Homo sapiens: one gene and its partners. The protein of the gene in region 2 purifies or fractionates together with the protein of the main gene of each other region. This does not show direct contact. Each region holds a gene or a part of one and is shown on either strand. Other genes may lie near its edges.

Evidence for each region.
Region 1: the proteins of FBXW8 (region 2) and OBSL1 purify together in Homo sapiens (affinity purification with mass spectrometry; 2 studies listed by BioGRID and IntAct, with this or other methods). This does not show direct contact.
Region 3: the proteins of FBXW8 (region 2) and CCT3 purify together in Homo sapiens (affinity purification with mass spectrometry; 3 studies listed by BioGRID and IntAct, with this or other methods). This does not show direct contact.

The regions. Positions count from the first base shown.
Region 1 is NC_000002.12:219,552,704-219,563,121, forward strand, and holds part of OBSL1 (obscurin-like protein 1 isoform 1 precursor), read right to left. Parts: intron 9,972-10,418; coding exon 9,699-9,971; intron 9,306-9,698; coding exon of another isoform or gene 9,181-9,305; exon of another isoform or gene 9,019-9,180; intron 6,795-9,018; coding exon 6,522-6,794; intron 5,757-6,521; coding exon 5,481-5,756; intron 5,408-5,480; coding exon 5,120-5,407; intron 4,916-5,119; coding exon 4,640-4,915; intron 4,021-4,639; coding exon 3,751-4,020; intron 3,590-3,750; coding exon 3,317-3,589; coding exon of another isoform or gene 3,294-3,316; exon of another isoform or gene 2,446-3,293; intron 2,038-2,445; coding exon 1,771-2,037; intron 984-1,770; coding exon 871-983; intron 322-870; coding exon 165-321; intron 1-164. UniProt on the Homo sapiens protein: Core component of the 3M complex, a complex required to regulate microtubule dynamics and genome integrity. It is unclear how the 3M complex regulates microtubules, it could act by controlling the level of a microtubule stabilizer.
Region 2 is NC_000012.12:117,016,962-117,027,379, reverse strand, and holds part of FBXW8 (F-box/WD repeat-containing protein 8), read right to left. Parts: intron 3,234-10,418; coding exon 3,060-3,233; intron 1-3,059. UniProt on the Homo sapiens protein: Substrate-recognition component of the Cul7-RING(FBXW8) ubiquitin ligase complex, which mediates the ubiquitination and subsequent proteasomal degradation of target proteins.
Region 3 is NC_000001.11:156,314,293-156,321,292, forward strand, and holds part of CCT3 (T-complex protein 1 subunit gamma), read right to left. Parts: intron 6,734-7,000; coding exon 6,547-6,733; intron 4,726-6,546; coding exon 4,576-4,725; intron 3,256-4,575; coding exon 3,123-3,255; intron 2,956-3,122; coding exon 2,874-2,955; intron 1-2,873. UniProt on the Homo sapiens protein: Component of the chaperonin-containing T-complex (TRiC), a molecular chaperone complex that assists the folding of actin, tubulin and other proteins upon ATP hydrolysis.

The DNA of each region.
Region 1 (10,418 bases), on a different chromosome or scaffold from region 2:
CGGAGCCCGGGGCGTGAGCGGGGCGGGGCAGAGGGCAGTTACCGGTCACGCCCCCTCCACGCCCCCTTTCTAGAAGCACGCGCGGTCATCAGGGTCCGGGGAAGACAGCTCCGCAAGTCTCGCGCCCAAAGCAGTGCCCAGCCTCCACATCACCCCGTACCCACCGCGCACGGTCAGGCGGACCGGTCCGGCGCGGGCCGTCCCCACCGCGCAGCTGTAGGTCCCGGCGTCCGAGGGGCCGCAGCGTCGCAGCTGGAGAAGGCGGCGCGTGCCGAGGGCCTGGAGCCGGAGCCGCGGGCTAGGCGTAAGCGCGTTCCCGTCCTAGGGGCGGGAGTTGCAGAGGGTCGGGGCGAGCCCGGCTGGGCACAGGCGACCCCGGCCCTGGCAGGCGGCGCACCCTTTGTTGATGCCAAGCGGTCTCGAGGCGCGTTTATGCGTGTCTCGTGTTCCCAGGCTGGGGTCGGACTGTCCCCAAGCCTTTGGGGTCGTGCCAGGAGCCTCTTTGAAAAAGCGTCACCCTTTGGGGACCTTAGGGCCGCCAAGGCACTCGGGAAGCCCAGAGCCAGGTATCGATCACAGGGGACATGGGCACGGATTCTGGAGTTAGGCAAACCTGGATTCGAATATGGGCTCTACCTGTTGTCTGCCCTTGGGTAGGTAATTTTTCCCACTGAGCATCAGTTTCCTGATAGGTATTACAGTGACAAGACCTACCTCCTAGAGTTGTCCTTGGAGTAAGGGATTAAATATAATGCAAATCTTAGCACAGTGCCAGGCACATCCGCTCAAGGAATATTAGCTGTTTCTGTCTGGGGCATTATTATCGTTGGTGTTACACTGAAGTGGGCTTGGCTGGGGCTGGGATCTGACCTTCTCCCAGGTAACATCAGCCAAAGCTTGGGAAAGCTCGCACTCGAACGTAGCTGTGTCGCCCTCGGTCACCTCTAGGTCGTGTGGCCCCCGCACGATGGTCACTGGGACCTCTGGGGGTGGGAGAGGGAGGACAGTGCAGAGGGAGCAGGATGGGGACCCATCTTGCAGGGACAAGGAGGACATACACTTGGGCACAACAGGCAGTAGAGGACACTAGCGAGTGGGGTTCGAGCTGGGACAAGTGGTCCAAGAAGGATCTGTCAGTGGTGGGGGTGGGGGGGATGTAGGTGGGCAGGGCCACAGGGCCAATGGGTTAGGAGTGGCCAACTGGGAGTCACACTTTAAGGTGGTCAGTGGGGGAGAAGCTGGGGGCCAGAGGGCAATGGGGAAACAAGCAGAGATGCCAGTGGAGTGGTCAGTGGGAACATCCTGGGACTGGAAGTAAAAATGGGGGACACTCAAGCAGACTTGCTAGTGATGTCGCCCGTAGGCAGTCAGTGGATTCAAGGGACTGGAGTGGTCACGGGGCCCACACTTAGGCGGGCAGAGGGAGCCACGGCAGACAGTGTAGCCAGTAGGGTCACAGTTAGAGTGGTCAGTGGGGTGGTGTGCAGGCGGGCAGACAGCAGTGACCACAATGGCAAAGGCATGCTCTTGGTAGCAGAGTCAGTGGTTGGCTGAGCCTTGGGCAGTCAGGGGCCACACCCAGGCAGAGGACTCTGGGGCCACACAGGGCCTATGAGTCAGGGGGATCACACTCTGGCAGGGATGTCAATGAGGGCCACACTGAGACAGGCATGGTCAGTGGGGGTCACACGAGTTGGGGGTCAGTATTCATGCCTGGGGTAAGTAGGGCCACACAGGTCAGCAGGCAGGCTGTGGTCCTGGAGGCCACACCTCTCACAATGAGTCTGGCTGCGCAGCGCAGGGAATCCGCTGTGAAGGAGACACAGCCTGAGTCGGCCAGGCCCAGGCCATTGAGTACCAGTCGGTGACGGTGGCCGTCCGAGTGGATGTGACACTTGGGTCCTGGATACAGCTGTACTCCACCCCGGGCCCACTCCCCGGTCACACCTTCCTGGGACAGCTCCAGCTGGAAGGTGGCACTGCCCCCCTCACTGATGGTCACGTCCTCCAGAGGCCGCAGCACCCTCAGCTGCCTCGCTGGCCGGGGGAGATGGAGAGAGGGAGGATGAGGCCTCCAGCTCTGGGCAGGGGTTGCAGTCAATCCTCATCCCTTGGCCCTGCCTACACCCCTGAACACCCAACCTAAGGTCCTGACCAAAAAAGTTCGGAACCAGGGTGCAGGAAGAAAGGAGCACGGTGGACAGATTTGGCGGGGGGAGGGCTGTATCAGGGTTAGGAGATGAGGGCACAGGAAGGGGGAGAAGTGTGGTTAGGGGGTCGTGGAGTCTGGGTGAGGGGTGCTGTGACACTTGAAGGAGCACGGAATTTGGAGTCAGACACACTAGGAATGGAACCTCGCTCTACCACATAGTTTGTGTGCTATGTGATCTTTGGCAAATGGCCTGACCTCTCTGGACCCCAGTTGCCCCAGCTGTACAAGGTGAATAACATTGGGACACAGGTTTATTGTGATGATTTCTTGAATGAAATAAGTTAGAAGAGATGTGTCACAAATGACAACCATTCACCAAGCTCTGTGTAAGAATTTTCATGTTATCTCAGTTAATGTTCCCAGAGACACTTGAGACGGGGATCAACCCCATTTTTAAAATTTGAGACAGGGTCTTGCTGTCACCCAGGCTGGAATGCCGTGACATGATCATAGCTCACTATAGCCTCAACCTCCTGGGTTCAAGCAATCCTTCTGCCTCAGCCTCCCTAGTAACTACCATGCCCGGCTAATTTTTATTTTTTTTTGTGGAGATGGGTTCTTGCTATGTTGCCCAGGATGGCCTCGAACTCCTGGCCTCAAGGGATCCTCCTGCCTTGGCCTCCCAAAGTGTTAGGATTATAGGCGTGAGCCACTGCACCTGGTCTCAGCCCCATTTTTAAGGAGACTTGGCTCAAAGAGGTTAACTTGCATGAGGTCACATAGGAAACAGAGGGCTCCAGCTTTGGGTGGGAGGTGTGGGGTGCTGTTTGACAGCCATCCCTGCTACTTAAGTGGGTATGTGTATCCCTAGAATACATGCCTGAAGGATGCCCATGGCAAGTCTTTCTGGAGAATATTTGTGTTTATAGCAAAGCCGACTTGGAAATATGCAATGGAATGCAAAATCCACATGGACTTCTAAGGTAAATAAAAAATATTAGAAAAAGAAAAGTTTTGCTTTGGGCAAGCTGCTGCTGGGACGGCCATGGGTGACTTTTCTCAGCGATGAGGGGCACTTTGGTGGGGGCCTGAGGGACTCCAGGACAGCCAGAAAAGGCTGTGGTGTAGGGTGGGTAATGCATTAAGAGAGGACGGGGCACTCACGCCTCACGCTGAGCCTGGCCAGGGTGCGATCGTGGTGGCTCTCGCAGCCGTAGGTGCCCTGGTCGGCCAGTATGACACCATGGATGAAGAGGCGGTGGATGTGCCCATCCTGGGCCATGGACAGGCGAGAGTCGTGGGGCAGGGGCTGCCCACCTCGCACCCAGCGCACGGCCCCCGCTGCACCCACTCGGCCTGTCTCCACTTCGAGACACACATCCTGGCCTTCCTCTGCCCGCACATCCTGCAACCGCCGTAGGAACAGCAGCTCTGTCTCTGGTGGGGAAGAAGGAGGCCATGGAGTCTGGTGGGGTTGGAGGCTGGCCCCTTGCTCCATCCCACTGGTCTGTCCCTAGGTGGAGAGGCAAGGCTGCTGGAATCCTGGTTGGGAGTACAGGCACGGGACACAGAGTATCTCATCCTCATCAGGACCTAACCTCGAACATGGAGCCGGGCACTTGTGGCCGTGCTCCCTGCCCGCAAAGTCACGGTCCCTGCATCCCCCAGTTGGCAGCCTCGCAAGGTTAAGATGCGGCTTGAACCATTCTGGGCCATCTCCACCTGGGGCCCTGGAGTGACGACGGCCCCATTGCGCAGCCAGGTGACATCGGCATCTGGTGGGGAGACTTCACACCGGAACGTGGCATCATCGCCCTCGTGGACAGTGAGTGGTGTCAGCTCCGAGACCAGCTTCACCAGCAGTGGCTCTAAGGGGCACGGTAAGGCAGTGAGCTGGGCTGAGTCTTTTCTTCTCTCTCCTTTTCATCCCCTCCTCAGGATGCAGGCCCTCGTCCCCAGTCATTTAACAGACCTTCTGTGAGGACCTACTATGTATCGACCACACCGATGGCCCAAAGGACAAGATGCCAGCTCCCTGCCACTCCTTTTAGTCAGTTCCTCATAATCCTAGCCTAGCACCCCACCTTGGTGGCACCCTAATAATATCAATTACCAGGGACCCTATTTACAGCATTTACTTGTCACAACAGGCCTATAAGAAAAGCACTATCCCCTCTTTTCAGAGCCGGGGCTCAGACAGGTTGAACAACTTGGCCAATGTCACACAGCTACTGGGGCACAGAATCTAGGCTGGAACCTGGCTGGGTGGACTCTAGAGCCCCTGCTTTTAACCACTGGTTTATGCTGCTCTCAACATGAGGGTTTCTGGAAAGAGGAGCCCTGAGCCCCTATCCAAGTGATGGTCATGCACGCACTGGTTGGAGCCAGAAGCAGCAAAGCGGGGGTGGAGGAGTAAGGGGGCCCTAGAAAGTGGCAGATGGTCCTTGGGGTGCCACAGCCCACAGGGTGTGAGGGGTACACTGTTACCTTCCACGCTGACAAGGAAGATGCGGCTGTCCTGGGGCGCATCGCACAGGTACTCCCCAGCGTCCCCGCTCCGTGCCCCCTGCACCCGCAGCACCTGCCTGGCCCCGGCCTGCTCCAGCTGCACCCGCCCCTGGCTTGCCAGTCGCTCCCCGTCCTTGTACCAGCGTACAGGGCCCCCTGGCCCGGAGAGGTGCACCACCAGCTCTAGGTCCCCGCCTGGGGTGCTCCGAACCCTCGTCTGGGCTGCCTCGGGAGCTACCACCCGCACAGGGGGCTCTGTGGAGTCAGAGCTGGAGGTCACTGGGAGGGAGAGGCTCAGGGCTTTGAGGAGGGCACGGGGAGGCATGACGGGGAAGGTACTGAGAGAAGTGGGGCCAGGGATGGGCAAGGCATGCTGGAAAAGCAGGAATCCCGCAGAGTTTGGGGTGCCACTCTCAGGCTTGGTGCCACTCTCAGGCTTAATGCCCAGGCTGTACTCACCAGCCACCTGGACGGTGAAGCTGAGGCTTGGGGCTCCGGGGGCTGCTCCAGACTGGCAGGTGTAGAGCCCTGCATGGGCTGGGCCTGCAGCCTGGATGCAGAGGACTCGGCGGGGGCCCTCGGCATGGAGCTCTAGGCCCTCGCCCTCCTGCACGGGCCTCCCATTGTGGCTCCAGACCACGGGGGCGCCAGCCCGGGACAGTTCACAGCTCAGCACCACTGGCTCCCCAGGGGCCACACAGAGCGGGCTTGGAGTTGTCTCTAGAGCAAGGAACTGCACTGGAGGCTCTGGAGAAGAGAGGAAGGTGTCATCCCATGCTTGCCCTTGCCTCCCTGCCCTGGGTTGGCCAGGAGCACCCACCAGCCAGGATGACATTGAAGGTGATGGCCTCATGCCGGGTCTCACACACATACTCCCCGGCGTCCTCAGGCTGGGCGTGGGGCAGGGTCAGGGTGCGGGTGGGCCCCTCGGCACCCAGCTGCAGGGCATCTGATGCCTCCACTTCCAGCCCGTCCTTGTACCAGCGCACCTGAGACCCAGCTGGGGCCACCTCACAGCGCAGCTCCACGCGCCCTGGAGCCCCAAAATGCAGATCCAGGGAGCGGGCTGCCGGGTGCACAATCCTCTCTGGTGGGGCTGGTGGGTGGGCATGGAGAGGGGCACATAGGCTTGGCCAGCAGGCCTCTCCTGCCTCACCCGCCAGATCCTCAGCCCTCCCCACTGGCAGCACAGCTCTTGAGAACAGTGCCAGCTGCAGTCCATGGAGCAGCTGCTGTGTGCCAGGCACTGTCCTAAGAACCCTGTGTTTTTTCAATCAGTTACTCTGACCACCCTCAAGAGGTGCACAGCTGCTGGCTGCACTTCATGGCTGAGGACCTGAGGCCTCTTTAGAAGAAACTGACTTGCCTAAGGTCACACAGACAGAAAGAGGCAGATCTAGACTCACACCCAGATCTACACACCCCACTCCACACCCATCCCCACTTCCTATCCCCTTTCCCTGCCTTGCCTCTGATGCACTTGTTACCACCTGACAAACCATCTCTTTTATTTTTTGTCTGTCCACCCTCACCAGAGTTTAAACTCTGTGAAGACAAGAGGTTTAGTCTTATTGGTTCACTGCTGTATCCCCAGCATCTAAAACAGTGCCAAGCACATAGTAGTTGCTCAATGAGTATTGAACGAATGGATGAATGAACGAATGGTTCTAATTGCTGGGCACCCTCCCACCAGGCCTCTGGTCCTGACCTGATGTGGCTAAGCAGGATTCTGATGGCCAAACATGAGGAAGCTGGATAAGGGGAAGGCTGGGGATGGGGTGGGGGAGGTGGGGCTAGGTGGGTGTCTGTCCCTTAGCCCCCTACCTCTCTACCTCCTCTCTGTGCTGCAGAGACTGCCCACCTGTGACAGTGACAGTGAAGAAGGCCGAGTCATCTCCAGCATCACATACAAACTCGCCCCCGTCCTCGGGCTGAGCAGCAGGTAGCACCAGGCGGCAGCGTGGCCCATCCCTCTCCAGCACCAGGGCCTCGCTCTCCTCCACTTCCAGCCCATCCTTGTACCAGCGCACAGGGGCATCCTCCCGAGACAGTTCACACATCAGCACCACACACTCCAAGGTCACGGCGATCAAGGTCACCTCATCGCGAGGGTATATGATCCGCACTGGGGGTTCTGCAGGGTGGGGACAACCACAGCCTGTCACAAGCTCACCGTCAGCCTCTCTGGAGCCATTCGGCAGCATGAAGTCCCTATCACCCACATAATAATGAGAATAATAAGTAAAATAATAATAAGCAATAATAGGTCCACAGTTTGTTCTCTGAAATCCCTGGGGCCAGAGGGTGTTACAGAATCCAGAATGCTTTGGATTCCAGAAATGATGCGTTTCTCATCTATCACATACCTTCCTCAGCCCCCACGGGAGCCTCCCCCTTCATCGGTCACGTTAACATGTCTGTGGTATAACACATACTACATTCACCCTAAGCAGGATAGATTGAAAGATACAGAATCTTACAGATACAAGCATATATCTATAAGACACTCATATCTTATAGATATACAGCTATAGCTATATTCACCCTCAGCAGGATAATTAAAGCATAGAAATAGCTTCAGAGCAATCAAGCTCAGGTTTTCCTGAAATGACTTGGAATACAAAACTTACAAAAAGCCTTTTGATTTTGAGAGTTTTGGAATTTTGGAACCATGGATAAGGGATGGTGGATCTACAATAGCAAACATTGATATGACACTTCCTAAGGTCCAGGAACAGTCCCAAGCACTTGAAACATTTAACTCTCACGGCAATCCTAAGAGGAAGGTAGTGTTTTGTCCCCATTTTCCATATAAGGGACTGGGCACAGAGTGATTATACAACTTCCTTAAGGTCACAGCTGGCTACACCCACTCTGGGGCAGGAGGAGGAAATACCCTCTGTTAAAGGGAGGCTCAGACCCCACAGGTAGTGGCAGGAATTCCAAGCCAAGGCTTGCAGGAACTCAGTAATGCTTTTTGCATTCAACGTCTGTCTGAGAGTTCCCCAGGGGTGCTAAATGCTGATTCTGGGAGCTCATCTCCAAGTTCTGGTCACTCCTCTGCAGAAAGGGAACCATGTCAATATTAGAGGTGACCAGCGCATGGAGCCCAGGCCTGCCCACACCCCTGCTGCCCCCAGGTCCCCCCAGAATCTTCAAGTTTTGGGGCGACTACTGCTCCATTAGCCTCTGGCCCCCTGGTGGCTGGGCTGAGGAACTGCTAGCTTCCCAATCAGGGGCCAGGGTTGGGGGGGTGGGGGCTGGGGGTGGTTTATAGGGGCATGCATGGGCCGAGGTAACCACAAGCTCCCACTCAGCCCCCCAGCCTCCACGGAGACTCCTGCCTTGAGCCACACAACCCACCTCCCCCATGGGCTTGCTTGCTCTAAGGGTCTGGGGGATGCAGGCTGGTCCTCTGGGGCCGAGCAAGGCCAGGAGAGACCAGAATGCAGCTGCCTGAGGAGTGGGGAAGGTGATGAGGGCAGTGGGGTGAGGACAGGGTGCAGTGATGGGACCGGGTGGCTGCCCAGCCCCGGGACCTCAGCTTGGTGTCAGACTTGATTCGCTCTGGCCTAGAGCAGAGGTGGTGTTTGTGTGAACTTCCCTGTGAAGAGACTGGTGTTTGTGGGGAGCCTGAGCATGGGCTGGAGTTTGTGTGGCTGTGGCCATTCTGTCTGGCCATGGCTGGGTGGGAGAGGGTGAAGATGATTACGACAGGGCAGAATATGTGCAGAAGGCCTCTTAGGCATTGTGGGCTTGTGTGTGTAGAGTGCATTAGCTGGGGTGCAAGGAGCAGGGGGGCCCTAAACAGCTCTGCATGGGGCGTGACTTTCAGGGCAGGGCTGGGAGAGGACAGGACTGTGGCCGCAGTAGGATGGGGGCTCCAGTGCAGCCACTGGGGTTCTGTGCCCCCCAGAGCTGCCTAGCCCTATGGACCCCCAGCCCCAGACACACACTGGGCTGGGCGCTGTGAGCCGTCACCCCGAGGTCTCCGGCACTGAACCTCCGTCACTTCCACAGTTGTCCTGTGCTTCTCCCGCTTTGAATATTCCCCCACACCCCACCCCACTTAGCTCCAGTATCAGCTTTGAAAGCACTTCCTGTTGCCTGGCCAGGGTGGTGGCTCCCAGCCCCAGGGTCCCTAGACTGGCCCTCAACAACCCATGCTCTAAGATCCTGGAATGCGTCTGGCTTTCCTGCCAGGCTGTGCAGTCCTAGAGGGAAGCGGCCGTGTCTGCGTGCTGCTGGCTCCCGTGTGTGGAAGGGTGACTTTCTCCCAGGCCTCCCTGACCCTCCTGCTCTGTGCTCTTGAGCCCTCTGCCCTTGGCCCTCACAGTACTTATCACCAGGTGTCACTGTACATTTATTTGCATGTTTATTGGTTTAACACAGGGGTCGCAAACTCAAATGCCCACAGGGGCCAGGTTAGGTTAGCGGCTGAAGCAGTCTGGGGAGAGGCAAAAAGCAATGGCAGGGAGGTGGGACAGAGGAATGTGGGCCCCAAACTATGGGGGCAGCTGCTACTCAGTGCCAGCTGTTCGTCGCCATGGGGGGAAGCGGGACCAGAGCCGCCGGGTCTTCGGCTTTTTCAAGAGGACGCATAACTCCGGATTGTTATTTGAACTGTCCTGACTTTGGTAAGACTCTGCAGACCAAACAAAGCACATGTGTGGAATGCGCAGGGCCCCAGGACTACCCGTTTGCGACCCCTGGTTAACAGCTGCCTCCTCACCTAGCCTGGCAGCTCATTCAGAATAGGGACCGTATTTGCATTACTCACCTGCTACTCCCAGTGCCTGATTCAGGGAAAGTGCTCAGTAAATGAGCTGTGGAGCAGAGCTAGGCCTGGCCTTGGGCACCGGGGAGGGGCTTGTTTCCTTGAATAGGGGCCCTGGGCTCATCTCAGCAAGAACCCTGGCACATGCACCTGCAGCCCACACCTCCCTCCTCCCCGGGGTGCTAGCTGGGGCTATGTGGCCAGCTCCTCCAGGGCTCAGGGCTGTCTCTGTGACCCCGGGGAGCTGGGCTGGGCCCACACCTGTGACGGTGACAGTGAAGGAGGCCGACTCATCGTCAATTTCACACAAGTACTCGCCGGAGTCCTCGAGCTGGACAGCGGGCAGCACCAGGCGGCGGACAGTGTCTTCCTTCTGCAGGAGCAGCGCGGGGCTCTCCACCACCTCCTCTCCATCCTTGGTCCAGCGCACCTCTGCCCAGGGCCGGCATAGCTCACAGGTCAGCACCACACGCTCCAGGCGCACGGCTGCCACATACACCTTGCCGCTGGGATACACGATCCACGAGGAGACGTCTGGAGGACAGGGACAGCCACTGCCGGGCATGAGGGGTGTGCCCTGCCGTCCTCCCTGACCCCGTTGTGTTCCCTACCCCTGGAAAGTAGGCCATGTGTTGAAGAGGGACCTTCCTGAGACCAAATCTCACAGCAGCTGACAGTTACTCACAGCTAGAGACACACGAATACAGCTGTCACAAAAGCACAGCAGACTTTCTGCTGCGCAGGAGCTGCACAGAGGGGACCACGGGGTCAGCCTCGGCTGTAGAAACGCTCCACATTCTCTGGGTTGGGACAGGGACGGTATGAAGGGTGGAACTGATGAGAGGAGGGTTGGGGGGAGGAGCTGGGGGTCTCCTCCTCCAAGATGTTTTTGCCCCCCTAGTGCCTGAGACCACCAGCCCTAGACTCTGCCCTACCCTGCAATAGACTCACTGTCCCCAGAGATTTCCCTTGGTACAGGTT
Region 2 (10,418 bases):
GAGAGAGCTCGTAAGGGGGCGTCCACTGGGCCTGCACTTGCTGCCGCAGGCCTGGGAGTTCAGAGCTGCAGGGGATTCTAGAACCCATAAAGCTAAGCTTCTCTTTCACAGAGGGAACAGGGCCCCCATGGAAGCAGTGTCTCACCTCAGTTCCCGAAGCTCAGGTGAGCAGGCCACGCTTTGGGCATGACTTTGTAAACAGGTCTGCATGCCCCGTACGCATGCTGGCATCTGCCCCCACAACCTGGTACATTCCAGACATAAAGGGCACACCCTACTGCAGACGAATCAGCCACATGCAACAGAGACTGGCCCATCGCTGCCTCCCTGGGCAAGTCCCTTGAGCTTTCCCAGCCAGGCTCTCCATCATCTATGGAGCACTGGGGGCACGTTCACTGTTGATCCATGAAGGTGCCCCCCACATCCTGCTCATAGGGCTGCAATGACACACGTACCCTGGGTGGTGAAAGCACGTTCGGAAAATCTTGGAACAAAATGGTTCCAAGTCTCTTGAACAGAGGTTTGCGTTCATTCTGAAACTTTCATGCAGTACCGGCTGTGGTCACGGCACTGAGCTAGGAGACACTGGATTAAAAAGATGTCTCATCCAGGTGGATGCCTGGCCCAGGGAGAGCCCTAGCTAGTGAAGAAGGTAAGATGCAGTCCCAGAAAACATGACCATTGTTTCTGTAGCACGAGCGATGTTACAAGCTACAAAGAATGTGTGACCCAGAGTTAAGTGCTGGGAGGAGCAGGAGGTGCTGTGGGCTGGGAGGGGTGCACAGGAGGGGACGAGGCCTGTGTGGGCTGGGCCAGGGCTGCTCTCCTTGACTAAAGCAAAGGATTCTTGGAAGTGAGGGAAGCTGGGAAGCAGTCCCTGCCTCCCTGGGGTTGGGACACCCACAGAAGGAAAGTGTTGGTGGACCTGGCATGGGACCTGGAGGATGAGAAAGACCCGGGAAGGGAGGGCAGGCTTGGTGGAGGCCTGCAGCCTGGAGGACTGAAGGAAAGTGTTGGTGGACCTGGCATGGGACCTGGAGGATGAGAAAGACCCGGGGAGGGAGGGCAGGCTTGGTGGAGGCCTGCAGCCTGGAGGACTGAAGGAAAGTGTTGGTGGACCTGGCATGGGACCTGGAGGATGAGAAAGACCCGGGGAGGGAGGGCAGGCTTGGTGGAGGCCTGCAGCCTGGAGGACTGACGGCACCCTGTCAGGCAGGCGAGGACCTGGGCTGAAGAGACTGAAGCGGACAGCGGGAGGTACATGACAGTGACCAAACAACAGCCAGACTGGGGCCTGGCAGCAGGCACTGCAGGTGAGGCCTTGAGCAAGTCAGTGAGTTCTGGGCAGGAGACCATGTGTCTGTCAGCCTTGTGCTGGTGAAAACAGTGACCACGTGGGGGACAAGCCTGGACCGCACAGGGACAGAGGCAGTGCTGGGACAGGGCCACACCTCTGGGGAAGGCCTTCCTTAGCTAGGCTTCATCTCAGTGGCCTGTCCCAGGGAGTGAAGCTTTGCTGAGAGAAAAATGAGATCTACTGGAGTTGGGGGCTGGCAGCCATCCCTGAGGACCTGGATGGCTGATCCAGGGTTTTCCTCAAAGGCAATGCTTCCGGGAATTTCAGTGCGGGAGTTTTAGTTGCCGTTTGGCACCACCTGGTGGCAATTCAGTGCATCACCATTCAGAAAAAGGGCCGAGGCGCCCTCAACAGGCACAGCCACAGCGAGGGGGCGGGCCAGGCAGTACCCAGGGCTCTGTCTGATAAAATGTGCCGGCCACAGTGTTTGCCAACACTGCCCTCCAAGGAAGAAGCCCATTCTGCATGTAACCCTGCCGCCTCTTGGAGACACCTGTCAAATTGCTGACCTTGCACTTCCATAAAGACCATGTCGCTGCTCAGAGGTTGTGTTCTCAGAGGTCGGTTTACCTTGATTTGCGGTAAGTGGGGAACAAATCTTAGTTCCTGTGGGAGGGCCTTGCCCTGTTTCTGCTCTTCTATGTTGTCATGCTCAGAGGCCACTGGCCCAGAATCATCTCGGTTTTGTAGAGATGGGGTTTCATTCTGTCACCCAGGCTGGAGTACAGTGACACAGTCACTGCAGCCTCAAACCCCTGGCCTTGAGAGCTCCTCAGTCTCCTGAGTAGCTGGGATTACAGGTGAGCCACGTGTCTGGCCGAATGTCTCTTCACAGTGGTGCTGAGGGCAGCAAGCGAGAGGGCCGGCTGCCTTTCTCCCCACCTGTCTCAAACGCAGGGTCTCCTGTTCGAGGCCTGCAGGGCCAGGTAGAGGTGGTGGCAGGTGGGCTCAAGTCAGCTCTGATGAGCCAGCCCTGGGCTGGGCTGCTGCTTTGAAGGTCAGAAGCAGGCTCACTGGAAATGTCTTAACCAGTTAGGTGCCACTGGCGTAAACCTACCTACCTCTGTGACGCCATCAGCCTGTGCTTAGGATAGTATTTATTTATATTTTGAATAGTGGTGTTAAAGGTGGAAATGACAAATTCCTCCTTCGTTGGAGCCTGAACCCCTTCAGTCCTAAGTGCTCTTCTCTGTAAACAGCATGAGGAAAGTCTAAGCAACGGGCAGAACCATGGTTACACATGACGGACTCGAGTGGAGGACAGCAGCTGGGCCAGCCCTGCCTTCCACCTGTGGGCAGGTGGGGTGTCACATCCTGGTCTAGCCCAGCGAGCTTCCTATGTTTTTGAGTTCCCTTTTCTGTTTATTAAGATGGAGAAATCCTAAAATAATCAGAATAGCACTTGCAAAAAAGTAGTTTCATTCTTAGAGAAAGCTGGGCCTGGCTAATGTAGGAATTGTGGCGATCTGAATGATGTCAGAGACAGGAACTGCATCCCCACTGACCAGCGCCATTTCCAAGCCTGTTTCCTCCTCTGCAGAGCGGTGCTGGGACAGCAGCTGGCTCCTAGGGTCACAGTAAGGATTCACCTGGCGAAGCCGGGGGGTAGGGGGCATTTAGCACCGTGCCTGGTGCAGGCTGATTAGTGCTGCCTTCCCTGTTCCTACTAGGAACTCCCAAGAGTGTCTAGAATGCACCTTACCCGGAATACACCTCCCACAGCTTCTGGTTCATCCGATAATCCCACACGGACACCAGGCCTTCCTCGCCTCCACTGACGATCTTCCAGTCATCCATCTGCACAGCAGAGACCCTGAGCTGATGGGCGGAGAGCGACAGGGCGATGTTACCACTGCGGAGGTCGTGGATCCTCACCCTGGACAGGCCCAGGAAGAGCAGAGAAGGGAAATGGGGTTAGAGTCAAAGCTTCAAATGACAAACTCCCCCTCCACGGTGCTGGTCTATGCACAACACTGCTATGAAAAACTCCTCAGCTGCAAACAAACATCGATAATAAGGACATCAAGCACAGACTGTCAGGGAGGACCCACACGGTCTCATCTGAATGGTTTAAAAGCACATGGAGCAAGAAAGACGCAGGCCAAGGACAGTGGCTGCCCACTTTACCTGCTTAACAGGGAAAAGCCACCTGCATGACTGCATGCGCAGGTTGGCCTGAGACGCCTGTCCCAGCAGTAGGTGTACTGCCCAGCACAGTAATTTTGCTGTTGGTAAAATAACCTGTTAAAGGCAAGAGCTACAAAGCCAGACACCCCAGATCCTAACCGGGTGAGGACCCGGTTAGGAAAAGAACACTTTTTGGGTATTTCACTTGACTTTGTAAGTTCATTGCTGTCTTGCTGGAACTGAGAAAGGGAAAGCCTTTATCCTTGATAAGCACAGCAGAGCGGGGATAAGGGTGTGTGTACCCTGGGCAGTCACTTATTGAAATAATTACTTGCCTTATAATAATCCCCATTTCTTTAAGAACCTCTTTAAAAACTACTTTTTATGTATGTGGAATTTTTCACGAGGATAAATTAGATAATGGGACAGAAATCTCGTATCCACTACAAACACCACCCTACTTGGTTTCTACAATAAGCCAAAGGCTAAAAGTAAATCAAATTCATTACATTTAATAAATGTAAAGATGAGCTTAAGAGACCCTGTGATGCAAGTCGAAAAGGAAAAGACAGTCCCTGCCCTGAAAAGAAAGACCCCAGCATCTAGCAAGGAACAGGACAAGCACAAGGATGTAAGATTAAAAACGCACGTCTGACCCAAAAGCTGTGGAGCGACAGGATTCTCTGAAACATGTCCCGTGCCCTGACTCTAGTTATGCAAGCATGCGCACACACGTCAATTTTCCAAGTTCTGAGGGAAAATTATTTTGAACCAACAATTCTATACCTAGCTTAGCTACCAAGTGTGAAGGCATAATAAAGAAAGACTTCTTTTTCTTTAACAGAAAAGGACTCAAAGTGAACTACCTGTGGATACTCTCTGAAAGAAAGTGGCATAGCAAAATACCAGAACAAGAAGACAGATGGCTTAAGTGGGACCTGGTGTGTCTGCTGGGTCCATGGAGGCACACAGGACAAACCTTCCTATTAACAAGAAGAGCTGCCCATGGATCACAAAGTAAAAATATATGCTATGCATGAAAAACACATCTGTAAAGGAGGATGAAAAGATGTTGCAATTTTAATGCTAGAAAAGGCAGAGTAGTTCAAGGCAAAAGCATTCACTGAGAGCACTTAAAACAACGAAGGGGCAGTTTACTCAGTGTTCGGTCAGACCTGGAAAAACAAACTCCATGGATCACATTTCTTTTTATAGGTTTTGTTGTTTATTATTTTTTTTAAAGACAGGGCCTCACTCCCATCACCCAGGCTGGAGTGTAGTGGCACCATCATGGCTCACTGCAGCCTCAGCTTCCTGGGCTCAGGTGATCCTCCCACCTCAGCGTCCCGAATAGCTGGGACTACAAGCACGTGCTACCACACCAGGCTAATTTTTTTTTTATTTTCAGTAGAGACGGTTTTGCTGTGTTGCTCAGGCTGGTCTCGAACTCCTGGGCCAAGGGATCTACCCACCTCAGCCTCCTAAAGTGCCGGGATTACAGGCATGTGCCATTGCACCCAGCCTGTTTTTTTTTTTTTTTAATAGTTTCTTTAGTCACTATAATCTATTCAGAAATTATTTCTATTTCTTGAATTTTTAAAATCTCCAAATCTGAAAACTTAGATGAGTAAATGGCTTTCTGGGAAAATAAGAATTATCAAAACGAATCCCCAGGAGACAGAAAATCCAAGTAGATAAAATAACAAATAGCAGCCTGAGGAAGCCAGCAAGGGGCAACAATCCCTGCAAAAAAAGAACAAGTGACTTTGGCCAGACCTGTTAAGGACCAGCTGCCTCCAGGGCTAAGTTAACTGTTCCACAGCCTAGGAAAAGGAGGAAAGCTTCCAAATTCTCCATGAAGCCAGCATTCTATTACCAAAGCCTAACCCTGAGAGCATGATCAAAGAAAACTACATATCCGAGTGAAACATCAGGAACAGACTCCACAGCAAGATGCCACAGACAAGGGGAATCAACGAAAAACCAGGCAGTCACGTCCATGGAAGCCGAAAGCAACGGGATGAAACGTCACAGCCATTCCAGATGTGGTCTTTAGAAACAGTGAGGCACTGGCACCACCATTACTTCACATCGCTTTTTAAAAACCAGACACAATTAGACAAAAGGAAAAAATGAAAGGTTAAAAAAAATCGGAAAGAAGTGGGTAGACTTCTTATCAGTGAGAAGGGACAGTCCCAGAGAATTCAGTAACACAGAGTCAAATATAAATTTATATGCTAAAATCTAGTTTAAAAATAAATAGAATCAAAGAAAATGTCCCATTTGTAACAGCAGTTAGAGGCAAAATACTCTATAATAATTTTCTCAACTTGGAGCTCTATCAATCACATATATTACACAAATTACAGAGAGCGCAAAGAGTTAAACATAAACTATAAAACATATTCAAAGGAGGAAGACCTTTCTAAACATAACAAAATATGGAAGGTGAAAAAAGGGTTTAACTTTTTCCTATTGGGGGGAACAATCAGAAAGTCAGTCCAATGATAAACTGAGGAAAATGTTTGCAACAAAAAGGGCTAATGTCTTATAATAAATGCCTTCAAATTAGTAAAGACTGACAACCCATTATTAAATCGACAGAAAAGATAAGAAAAAGCAATTCACAGAAAAATACTAATGGCTTTTAAACATGTGTAAGATGTTTAAGTTTGCTGGTAATCAGATAAATTACACAGTAAAACTACAATGCAATGCCACTTGTCACCAATCTACCCAGCAAAGGTAAAGTTTGGTAACATGCCCTACGAGGCACTGTGTGGCAGGGAGACATGGACAGGTAGGTACTCCTAGACAGCTGAGGCGAGCAGAAATCCTTCTCTGGGGAGTGACTTGGCAATATCCAACCAAATACCACATGCACCTCACTTCTGAGCCGGCAATTCCACTTCGAGGAGGTAGCTACACAAGAGTCCACATACACGCAAGGCCAGTCACTGCTCTTAGTTGCAAAAGAGGCTTCTGTTTCAGACAACATGTTGACAGTTCCACTGTAAAACGCTTAAAAATGCTGGATAAAATCCTTTTAAGGGCACTGCTGAGCTCACGTAGGAAGTGACTTCCCCAGGACCTGAGCTGAAAACCAGACAGGAGAGGGTGAGCTGCGACTTCAGGGGAGGGGAGGCTGCTGGCAAGCGCCAGGCTCAGCTCCGTGGTTTCATCAAACACACTGAAGGGCCACCCTAGGCAGGGAGCGGAGTATGGAGACTCCTGCTTTCAATACAAAAGCATGAAAGTATAGTCCCTGAAATTAAATTTGGGAGATAGGCTGGAAGCAGATCAGAGAATGCGTGAATCAGAAGAAAAATGTGAAGAAATTACCAAGAATGGAGCACAAAGAGATAAATATGAAAACTGCGAATGGGGGTATAAGAGACATGAGGGACAGAAGGGGTGGTGCACCACACGCCCCAAGTTCCGGAAGGAGAAAAACAGAGTGCGGACAGCTAACAGCTGATGTTTCCCGAACTGATGAAAGACATGCATGCCGACTCAATGCACACGAATCAAACACAAAATACATATCTAAGAGTATAATTTAAAAAATGGGGAAACACAAAGACCAAGAGGTCCTAAAAGCAGCCTGAGAGAAAAAGACATTACCTATTAAGGAAAGATAATTAGACTGACAGGAAAAATCAGACACATTTTAGCTGTCATGAACTGGAATGACGTAGGTGACACGATTAACTAGCTCTTCAACTGAGTGCTAGTTAAAGCAATTATGGTACATCCATACAGTGGGACCCGGGGCAGAACTACACAGGCTGACTGGCAGCCGTGCGCACAGGTGTGTGCTGGGGGACATGCATTTAGGCTGTGCGTGTGTGGGCGGCCCCCAGAGAACGCTCAGCATTTAAGCAGTCGCAATGAGGGAGGCTGACAAGGCTGCTGGGAAGAGGGGTGCGCTTCGCCCTCTAGGCTACTCTGCTTTTGAGGCCCATTTTGAATGTGCGTACTTCCTGTTTAAATAAAACCAAACAATTTTAAAGATCAAATTCTGGAAGCACGTACTTGAAACATTAACAACAATTACCTTGGAGAAGAAAGAGGGCAATAAAGGCGGCTTTTGTGTTTTATTCTGGACGCTGCCATGTTTAAAAAACAAGAATTCATTCATGACCGGGAGGCCTTCAACAGTCACACTCTCTTTCTTGAGCTGAGAGGTGGATGCGCGGGCATTCTCGGTTACTCTTGAAACTGTATGCGCACCTTATATACACTCCCATACATATGTTCGGTTTCATAATTAAAAAATAATACTTTCATCTATTTCTTAGAAAAGGTGAAATAAAACAGGATGGAACAACACGTCGTTTTAGGACACAGAGGAGAGACTGTTTCTTCTTCCTGCTAGGCCATGTAACTGACAAGGCAACCCAAGTGAATAGATATACTCAACGCTGGGAAACAGGTAGCACAGCAAATGGGCACCAGAATATGCCAAGACAACCGATTCCAGGGACAAGTTGAGAGTTCTCTGTATAGAGAACATAAAATTCTATGTGGCCAACATTAACAAGCCCTTCGGACTGGCCACTGAACCTTTCTGGACCAGCATTAGATGGTCTTGAAGAGGTCTGCTAGATCCAAAATTCTGAGATCCATAACAAGTCCATCCAGTGGACACAGATGATAATGTATAGATGATACATAATAGGTCCGTTGCTACAAATGCTGCTCAGTCCCTGACTTGCCAGTGAGGGATCTGGGAGCAGAAAGATGCAGAGAGAGCTTGAAGATGACTTTGTAAACAAAGGTCTCTCTCTGTCACGTTTACAGACACCTATCCTTAGGCATGCGTAGGTAAGAGAAGAGAAAAAGTATAAATGCTGTAAAGAGAACTCTAACCTTAGTCCATAATGGGAACTTGAAAAGGATTGGGGAAAGGGGGAGCGGAAGTGTTTACCAAGTACTTTTCAGTGCATATTTGGTTAATCAGAGTCTATTCAGCTATGGTGATTTCCATAAAGAGCTCCTCTGTTGAATATTTATACTCCATAATTTACAGTTTGGCTGTTAAGGAGACAAAGGCAAACACAAATTTGGTCCAGAAGTTCAAAGTTTGCCATCTGTTTTCCTATTGTATTTAGATACCAGCATGGATGGCTCCAAACAAAATAAACAAATAAACCAAAAGATGCGGCCTCAGTGTATTTTATATCACTAAGGAAAAAAAAATAGGCCAAACCAGCCTTGAATTTCTCCCCCCTGGGAAAAAGGAAAAACATTTTTCTGACATCTCCTTAGAGAAGCACCACTCTGGCTTCTCGTCGACAGAAACAGCAGACAGCACAGTGTGCTAAGTCCACCCAAGCCATTCAGATTCACATGAAGAAACAGGTATCTGCCTCGGACATCTGACAGCGCGCAGCACAGGCCCGAATGCCGTGCGCCTTGGCAAAGCCCGTCGTCAGCTCAGCACTCAAACCAAATACTCGACGCTGGGAAACAGGTAGCACAGCAAATGGGCACCAGAATATGCCAAGACAACCGATTCCAGGGACAAAGAGGAGCCAATGGTAGATATTGTGAATCCCCATCTAGCGAGTATTTCATCAACTTTGCCCATTGAAAGGAAAAATAATTGGTCTGAAAGCTGTAATTGTATTATGTTTAATATTCATGGTTGGGCTTGGAGGACAGTTCCAACACTCCCTCTCTCCAGCCCCTCTCTAATGAAAATCACACCATAGGAGTCGGCGGTAGCCCACCAATTAAAACAAAAGACACCAGAACCTTCCAAAGACTCCAACAGAGGAGCATCCATCTGATGGGCAGGAAAACGTGCTGGAACCGAGAGGGAGGCACGCTCTGGTTGGTCCTGTGTTAAGAGCTCTGAATAACTTATTATAACACTTGCAGATGGAGCAAATGCAACATTTACGCCCCAATCACTCTCTCTCTAACAGCAGGCAGCAGTAGCACGAGCACAGCACACAACTTTATATTTGTCAGGGCAAGAAGCAAGCACTGAGACTCTGTAATTGGGGGGTCACAACTCAGGGCGTGCTTCCTATTGGCTTGGATTAAATACTCCCATATGATAATGAGGAACACCGTAGCTGATGGCAAGCTGAAGCCTATTCAGTGTCTGGCTCGGCAGTTTCATTAAGGAGGACCTGACCTTCTGCTAATATTTCTACCCAGAAAACAAAGAGAACAAGCAATAAGGTATTACAATGTAGGCTTTTTTTATGACCAAATTAATTTTAAAAATAGTATTTTTTTAAAGAAATCAATACATGATTCTGTTTGCTCTCACTGAACCTGGGCTATTAAATATTAAAGAGGATTTTAAATATAACCTTATATGCCAAAATCAATAGCTTTATCTACAAAGCACTGACAATGGCCTTTGGTGAAAGATTCATTTTAAACGGCAACTAGAAAAAAGTGTATTTTCAGGTAGAACTGCCAGTTTAATGCAGCTAGCCTAAGCTTAGTGCTCTCTGTATTTTAAGGCTGTATCTCTGAAGTTTAGAGTTCTCTGTATAGAGAACATAAAATTCTATGTGGCCAAGATTAACAAGCCCTTCGGACTGACTGGTCACTGAACCTTTCTGGACCGGCATTAGATGGTCTTGAAGAGGTCTACTAGACCCAAAATTCTGAGATCCATAACAAGTCCATTCAGTGGACAAAGATGATAATGTATATAATGCCAAGAAAAGGGCACATGGTCCCAAGTTGGAAATACTAAAACATTTAGTTATTAACTAAGTCATGAGTATTTCCTACATCCATACTGTTACTTTCATATACAGTGACACTATTCAACATGCCTGACATTTGGAAGTTTACTGTTACATTACTTATTTTAGAAAGGGTGAGGTATTGTAATCAAAAAGCTGTACAGCGTGGTAGTGCCAGAACACAGACATACAGATCAACAGAACAGAACTGAGAGTCC
Region 3 (7,000 bases), on a different chromosome or scaffold from region 2:
CAATCAAGGAAATCATGAAAGAGACTGTGGATGTGGCTAAAAAAACTGGCATAGCGGTGGTGAAGGGTTTCAAGATATGAATCTTGGAGAAACTCAAGAGCTAACAGACATTACATCAGAGGAATTAACACAAGATGACAGGCCAGGTGCAGTGGCTCACGCCTGTAATCCCAGCACTTTGGGAGGCTGAGGTGGGTGGATCACCTGAGGTCGGGAGTTCAAGACCAGCCTGACCAACATGGAGAAACCCCGTCTCTACTAAAAATACAAAATTAGCTGGGCTTGGTGGCTCACGCCTGTAATCCCAGCTACTCGGGAGGCTGAGACAGGAGAATCGTTTGAACCCAGGAGGCGGAGGTTGTGGTGAGCCAAGATTGTGCCACTGCACTCCAGCGTGGGCGACAAGAGCGAAACTCCATCTCAAAAAAATAAAAAATAAAAACAAAAAAAACCAAACAGAAGATGACTTGATGGAGACGACTGCTTCCAAAGCAGTGCCAGACGATGAGGAAGATGATGTAGAAGCAGCAGTGCCAGAAAACAAACTGACATTAGACAATCTGGCAGAAGGCTTCTGATTATTCAAGACTGCTTTTGACTTCTTTTATGATATGGACCCTTCTATGATAGAGGCACTGAAACTGAAGCAGTGGAAGAGGGACTGGTACTATACAGAAATATTTTTAGAGAAACAAAAAAGCAGAAGTCAGACAAATCACGATGTATTTCCATTGAGTTACACTGAGTGTGCCTCCTGCCCATCCTGCCTCCCCTTCTACCACTCTTCTGCCTCTGACACCCAAGACAGAAAGACCAGCCCGTTCTTCCTCCACAGCCTATTCAACATGAAGATGATGATGACCTTTTTGATGATCTACTTCCACTTAAGGCATAGTAAATGTGTTATCTCTTCCTTATGATTTTCTTTTTTTGGAGACGGACTTTCACTCTTGTCGCCCAGGTTGGAGTGCAATGGCACCATCTCAGCTTACTGCAACCTCCGCCTCCTTGGTTCAAGCAATTCTCCTGCCTCAGCCTCCCGAGTAGCTGGGATTACAGGCATGCACCACCACACCTAGCTAATTTTTGTATTATTATTAGAGATGGGGTTTCACCATGTTGGCCAGGCTGGTCTTGAACTCCTCACCTCAGGTGATCCACCTGCCTTGGCCTCCCAAAGTGCTGGGATTACAGGCATGAGCCACCGTGCCCTGCCCTTATGATTTTCTTAATAACATTTTCTCTAGCTTACTTTATTTAAGGGAATACAGTATATAACACATATGATATACAAAATATGTGATAGTTAATTGTGTTATTGGTAAGGGTTCGGGTCAACGGTCAGCTATTAGGAGTGGGGGAGTCAAAAAATTATACATGGATTTTCAACTCCTTGGGGACTGATTCCCCTAACCCCCAAGTTGTTCAAGGGTCAACTGTACACTTAAGGCAACTAGTCATCACTACTATAACCAGATATAGTTGAATTCAAAATATACTTTGTGGTTACTAAAATCTGGACAAATTAGTTCTCATGCATATCTAACATGTACATATTTCAACTAGAGAATTAGAACCTGCAAAAAAGAAAGATAAAAGAAAAAAATTAACATGTCTATACTATATAATGGTAACTTCTAGATATAACCCATCCTGTACTGCCCAGTTGAGTCTCCAGGCGAATAATAAAGACTGTACCAAAGATGCAAAGGTCAAGCAAGGAGGAAGGCGAATAAACATGTAAGTAGAGTTGGCCCTCTATATCCGCAGGTCCCGCATCCAGATTCCACCAACCATGCACTGATAACATGGCAGGGGGGGTGGGGTGGGGGGATGGACAATAATACAACGGCAAAAAATAATATAAATTTTAAAGACAATATAGTATAGCAACTATTTATATAGCATTTATGCTATATTAGGCATTATAAGCAATCTAAAGGTGATTTAAAGTGTATAGAAGGATGTGTATAGGTTATACACAAATACCATACCATTTTATATAAGGGTTAAGCATCCACAAACTTTAGTATTCAAGGGGGCGGGGATCCTAGAACCAATGCCCTGTGGATATCAAGGGATGACTGCATACGTCTGACCGAAGTTTAATGAATGTAGGACTAATTGCTTGTCACTCCCTCCAACTCATGGCCATGTGAAGTCAACTATGTGTATGCATGTTAATACCCTTTGGGGTATAAAAGTATAAAATATGATTTGGATCTGTGATATATTATGTTGGGGTAGATTTGTCAGCTTTTTGATAAATTAAAAATGAATGAACTTTGCTGGGCATGGTGGCGCATGCCAATAGTTTCAGGTACTGGAAAGGCTGACAACAGGATGACTGCTTGAGCCCAGGAGTTTGAGACAGGCCTAGGTAACACAGCAAGACCTTGTCTATTAAAAAGAATGGTCTATGAGCACAGACATCAGTGCAGAAGTAGTGAATGCAATCTAGAATCGCATAAATCGCAGCTAAGGATGTAGCTGAGGAAACTGATGGTTCTGCTATAATCCAGGCCACTTAGGATACTCTGGAAATGTTCATTCAAAAATCATCATAATGACATTAAAGAAAACCTCTTAGATAGGCAGTTATTTAGAAATGTAACGGACACCCACCAAGGTAGCAATTACAAATGTCTAAGCACAAGCTGCTCACTAATGGTTAGGGGCAGTACAGATGAGACTCACGCAGTAAATAACTGTTGGACTAGAGGACTTCTGAAGAGGGCAGGCAGCTAAGCCAAGGTTATTTCTACCTGTTACTATATCCTTTATTAAACCTTTTCAGGTAATGATGACTGTTACGCAACTACAAAAAGGAAACACACGGGAAGAAAAGTCTTGTTTTTACCTGGCCTACTCACCTAGCAATGCGATTATTGTCTGTCTTCCGGACTCTGCGGATGGCTGTGATATTGGCCCGCATAAGGTAGTGCTGAGCTAAATCTACAAATCCAAGAGTAGAGATGTCAAGCTGGGTTCTGAACTGGTTTTATAATCAAAGTACTCTTAACCATGACACTATTACGCCCCTGCCAAACATGAGGGGAGAAAACAAATCACCCACCCTCGTCTACCTCAAAGGTAGGCTGGAAAAAGTAACAAAGTCCCACCTGAGATGCCCTTTTCAGTGATGACCACATCGGGCTTCAGTTGGATAATGTCCTCACAGAGCTGCTGGATGTACTCTTCCTCCATCTGGAGAATTCGGGTGAAGTCCTCCTCTCGTGTAATCTCAATGTCAGTCTGTGTGGTAAAGAAAAGACACTGATTTTAAAATCCCTGGACTGGTGAAGCTCTAAGGGTCATATTATACTCCTTCCACCCACCTCTCCCACGTATCTCAGAGTCAGAATTATGTTAAAGCCATGACCTCAACACCTCTGTAAGCCAATTTAGCTTTAGTTTTGCTTTTTTTTTTTTTTGAGACGGAATCTTGCTCTGTCACCCAGGCTGGAGTGTAATGGCGCGATCTTGGCTCACTGCAAGCTCTGCCTCCTGGGTTCAAGCGATTCTCCTGCCTCAGCCTCCCGAGTAGCTGGGACTACAGGTGCCTGCCACCACCCCCAGCTAACTTTTTTTTTGTATTTTTAGTAGAGACGGGGTTTCACCACGTTAGCCAGGATGGTCTCGATCTTCTGACTTCGTGATCCGCCCGCCTCTGCCTCCCAAAGTGCTGGGATTACAGGCGTGAGCCACCACGCCCGGCCAGCTCCAGTTATATCATTATAAAACAACCAGAACTGAAAGTCACACAGTAATTAGTGTTGAGTTTGGCCTTTCTAAGGTCTCTGACCACCCAGTCCAATCCTACATCTGTCCTGGCAGTGTGCAGGAAAATCCTGGGTCTTAATTCTTCCCACTAATTGATTCTTATTCTTTCCAAATGTGATGGAGCCTTGTGAGCCTCCTGCCCTCTAGAATTTTTTTTTTTTTTTTTTTGAGACAGGGTCTCACTGTTGCTCAGGCTGGAGTTCAGTGGCGTGATCACAGCTCCTTGCACCCTTGACCTTCTGGGTTCAAGCAATCCTCTCACCTCAGCCTCCCAAGTAGTGGGGACTACAGGCACATGCCACCACGCCCAATTAATTTTTTTTAAATAAAGACAGTATTCGACATGTTGCCTAGGCTGGTCTTGAACTCCTGGGCTCGAGCCATCCACCTGCCTTAGCCTCCCAAAGTGCTAGAATTATAGGTGTGAGCCACTGCATTAAGCTGAAATTCTCCTTTAGTACTTCAAAGCTGAATTAACTCCTACCTTATGTTCCCCTGGTGCATTAGGAAAGGCAGCATGATCGTATAAAACAAGCCAAACACAACCAGGTTCAAATCTTGATTTTGGCCAATACTAGCTGTATTCCTCAAGCAATTAACCTAACTTGTTTGAGCTTCAGATCCCTCATCTGTAAAATGAAATCAATACCAACTATTCTAAAGGATTGTTCTAAGAGTCAGTGTACACTATGCACCCAGAAGGCATGCAATAAACATACGTTTTATTTCTGTTGTTCATATTTGCAGTCAGATTCTTGCATCTACTTTAAGGAACAAGGCCAAGAACCTTACCTGGCTTTCTCCTTTCTTGTATTCCAGAGAAGAATCCAGCAGCACAATGCGAGGGTTCTTGATATAGCGCCGCATACGTGGATGGGTCACATCCTTGTTAATCATGACTCCACGCAAGACACAGGAGTCTTCAATGATGCCTCCAGGTATCTGAACAAAAGACAACTGCACTTTAATCCACAATCAAGAGACAATTTCTTAATTTCCTTCCCAGATGTTCATCTTTCCCAAACAGCTAGTGTTTCAGGTTTTTTTTTTTTTTTGAGATGGAGTCTCGCTCTGTCGCTCAGGCTGGAGTGCAGTGGTGCAATCTCGGCTCACTGCAAGCTCCGCCTCCCGGGTTCACGCCATTCTCCTGCCTCAGACTCCCAAGTAGCTGGGACTACAGGCGCCCGCCACCACACCCGGCTAATTTTTTTTTTTGTATTTTACTAGAGATGGGGTTTCACCATGTTAGCCAGGATGGTCTCGATCTCCTGACCTCGTGATCCGCCCGCCTCGGCCTCCCAAAGTGCTGGGATTACAGGCATGAGCCACCACGCCCGGCCCAGTGTTTCAGGTTTCTAAAGTACCTTTCTTTGATGAAGCTCAAAAATATTATTGGAATCACATTTTTTTCCCATTAGGAAATACACCAATTTTAGACCATGACACTCAACTTGAAGGTCTGCTGAGACTCACTGAAATTCAATGACTTGACAAAAGACTTAGAGGGGCTTATGAGCCAGGCACAGTGGTTCACACCTAAAATCCCAGCTACTCAAGAGGCTCAGGCAGGAGGATCCCTTGAGGCCGGGAGTTCGAGACCAGCCTGGGCAACACATTGAGACCCAATTGCTATTTAAATAAATAAATAAGGGCTTAGGTCTCTCCAATTAAAAAAATAAATATATTGCCAGAGAATTTTAGGCTTGGGGCTCCATCTACTGGCCACAAGCTATACTACTAAACTTTTGGATCTTAATGAAATTTAGTGGACAGGAGAGAAAGCTTTCTGGGGCTTACTATTTTAATAGCACTACATAATAGAGCCCTTGTTAAGCTTATATCCTGACCAAATGACTGATGTATGCAAATACACAAACATGGAGACACCAATAAGCCTGTCCCTTGTCCTCATAAACCTTGTGTAGGGATAGCAGTGAAGGTAACAACAAAACTATTTGAAGAAATTCCTACTTGGTAGCCTCTTATAGGTTTTTGTTTCCAGGCAGCAAGTATAGTTCTTCCTAGTTCTAACTAAAGATACCTTGCTTTGGTCAGGCGCAGTGGCTCACCCTATAATCCCAGCACTTTGTGAGGCAAAGGTGGGCAGATCACTGAGGTCAGGAGTTCGAGACCATCCTGGCTAACATGGTGAAACCCCGTCTCTACTTAAAATACAAAAAGAAATTAGCTGGGCGTGGTGGCAGGCATCTGTAATCCCAACTATTTTAAAGGCTGAGGCAGGAGATCACTCGAACCCGGGAGGTGGAGGCTACAGTGAGCCGAGATCGCACCACTGCACTCTAGCCTCTGCGCGACAGAGCAAGACTCCATCTCAAAAAAACAAACAAACAAAAAACATACCTTGCTCTGATTTAAAACTATTTCATTCAAGTAGGGTATGATGGCTTATGCCTATAATCCCAGCACTTTGAGAGCCTGAGGTGGGAAGATCACTTGAGGCCAGGAGTTCAAGACCAGCCTGGGCAACATGAGACCCTCATCTCTACAAAAAGAAAAAAAATTTGCTGGGCACAGTGGCATGTGCCTGTAGTCCTAGCAAATCAGAGGATTTGCTTGAGGCCAGGAGTTTGAGGCTGCAGTGGGCTGTGACTGTGCCACTATACTCCAGCCTAGGCAACAAGGTGAGACTCTGTCTCAAAAACAAAACAAAACAACGGCATGAAAAACAGACTATTTCCTCACAAGTGAGATGACTCATGCTAACATATAATTTGACCCAATGTATACACTTTGAAAGTTTACCTTTTCCACTCTTGCATATTTTTTTATGTCAATCTCTTTCCGACCATTCTCCTCAAACTGTACCATCTTGACAGCATCCAGGGCAATGTTGCAAGCCAAAGATGACCACCGACTGATGGCTTTGGTAGTAATAGAGCTGTTGATGATGTTCAGCATCATATCACTGTCACTGATGTCGACTGGGATACTAGAGAAAAGAAAACCAGACGATATGTGAAGAAGGCATGTTAGATATGTAGAGATGTGCCTTATCTATACCTCAGTGACTATAATAATGGACCAAGAGGCAGAACAAGGGGATTTGTTCCTTTGGAGGAAACTAAAAGGACATTAGGAGGTAACCTTTGTCCATTCCTCTGCCTTTCAGCAAGATTACAACTCATCTGTAGACGGTGCCTTAATTCCCTGAGCAACCCTTTACACTTACATACAAAGATTATAGTAAAATAATTTG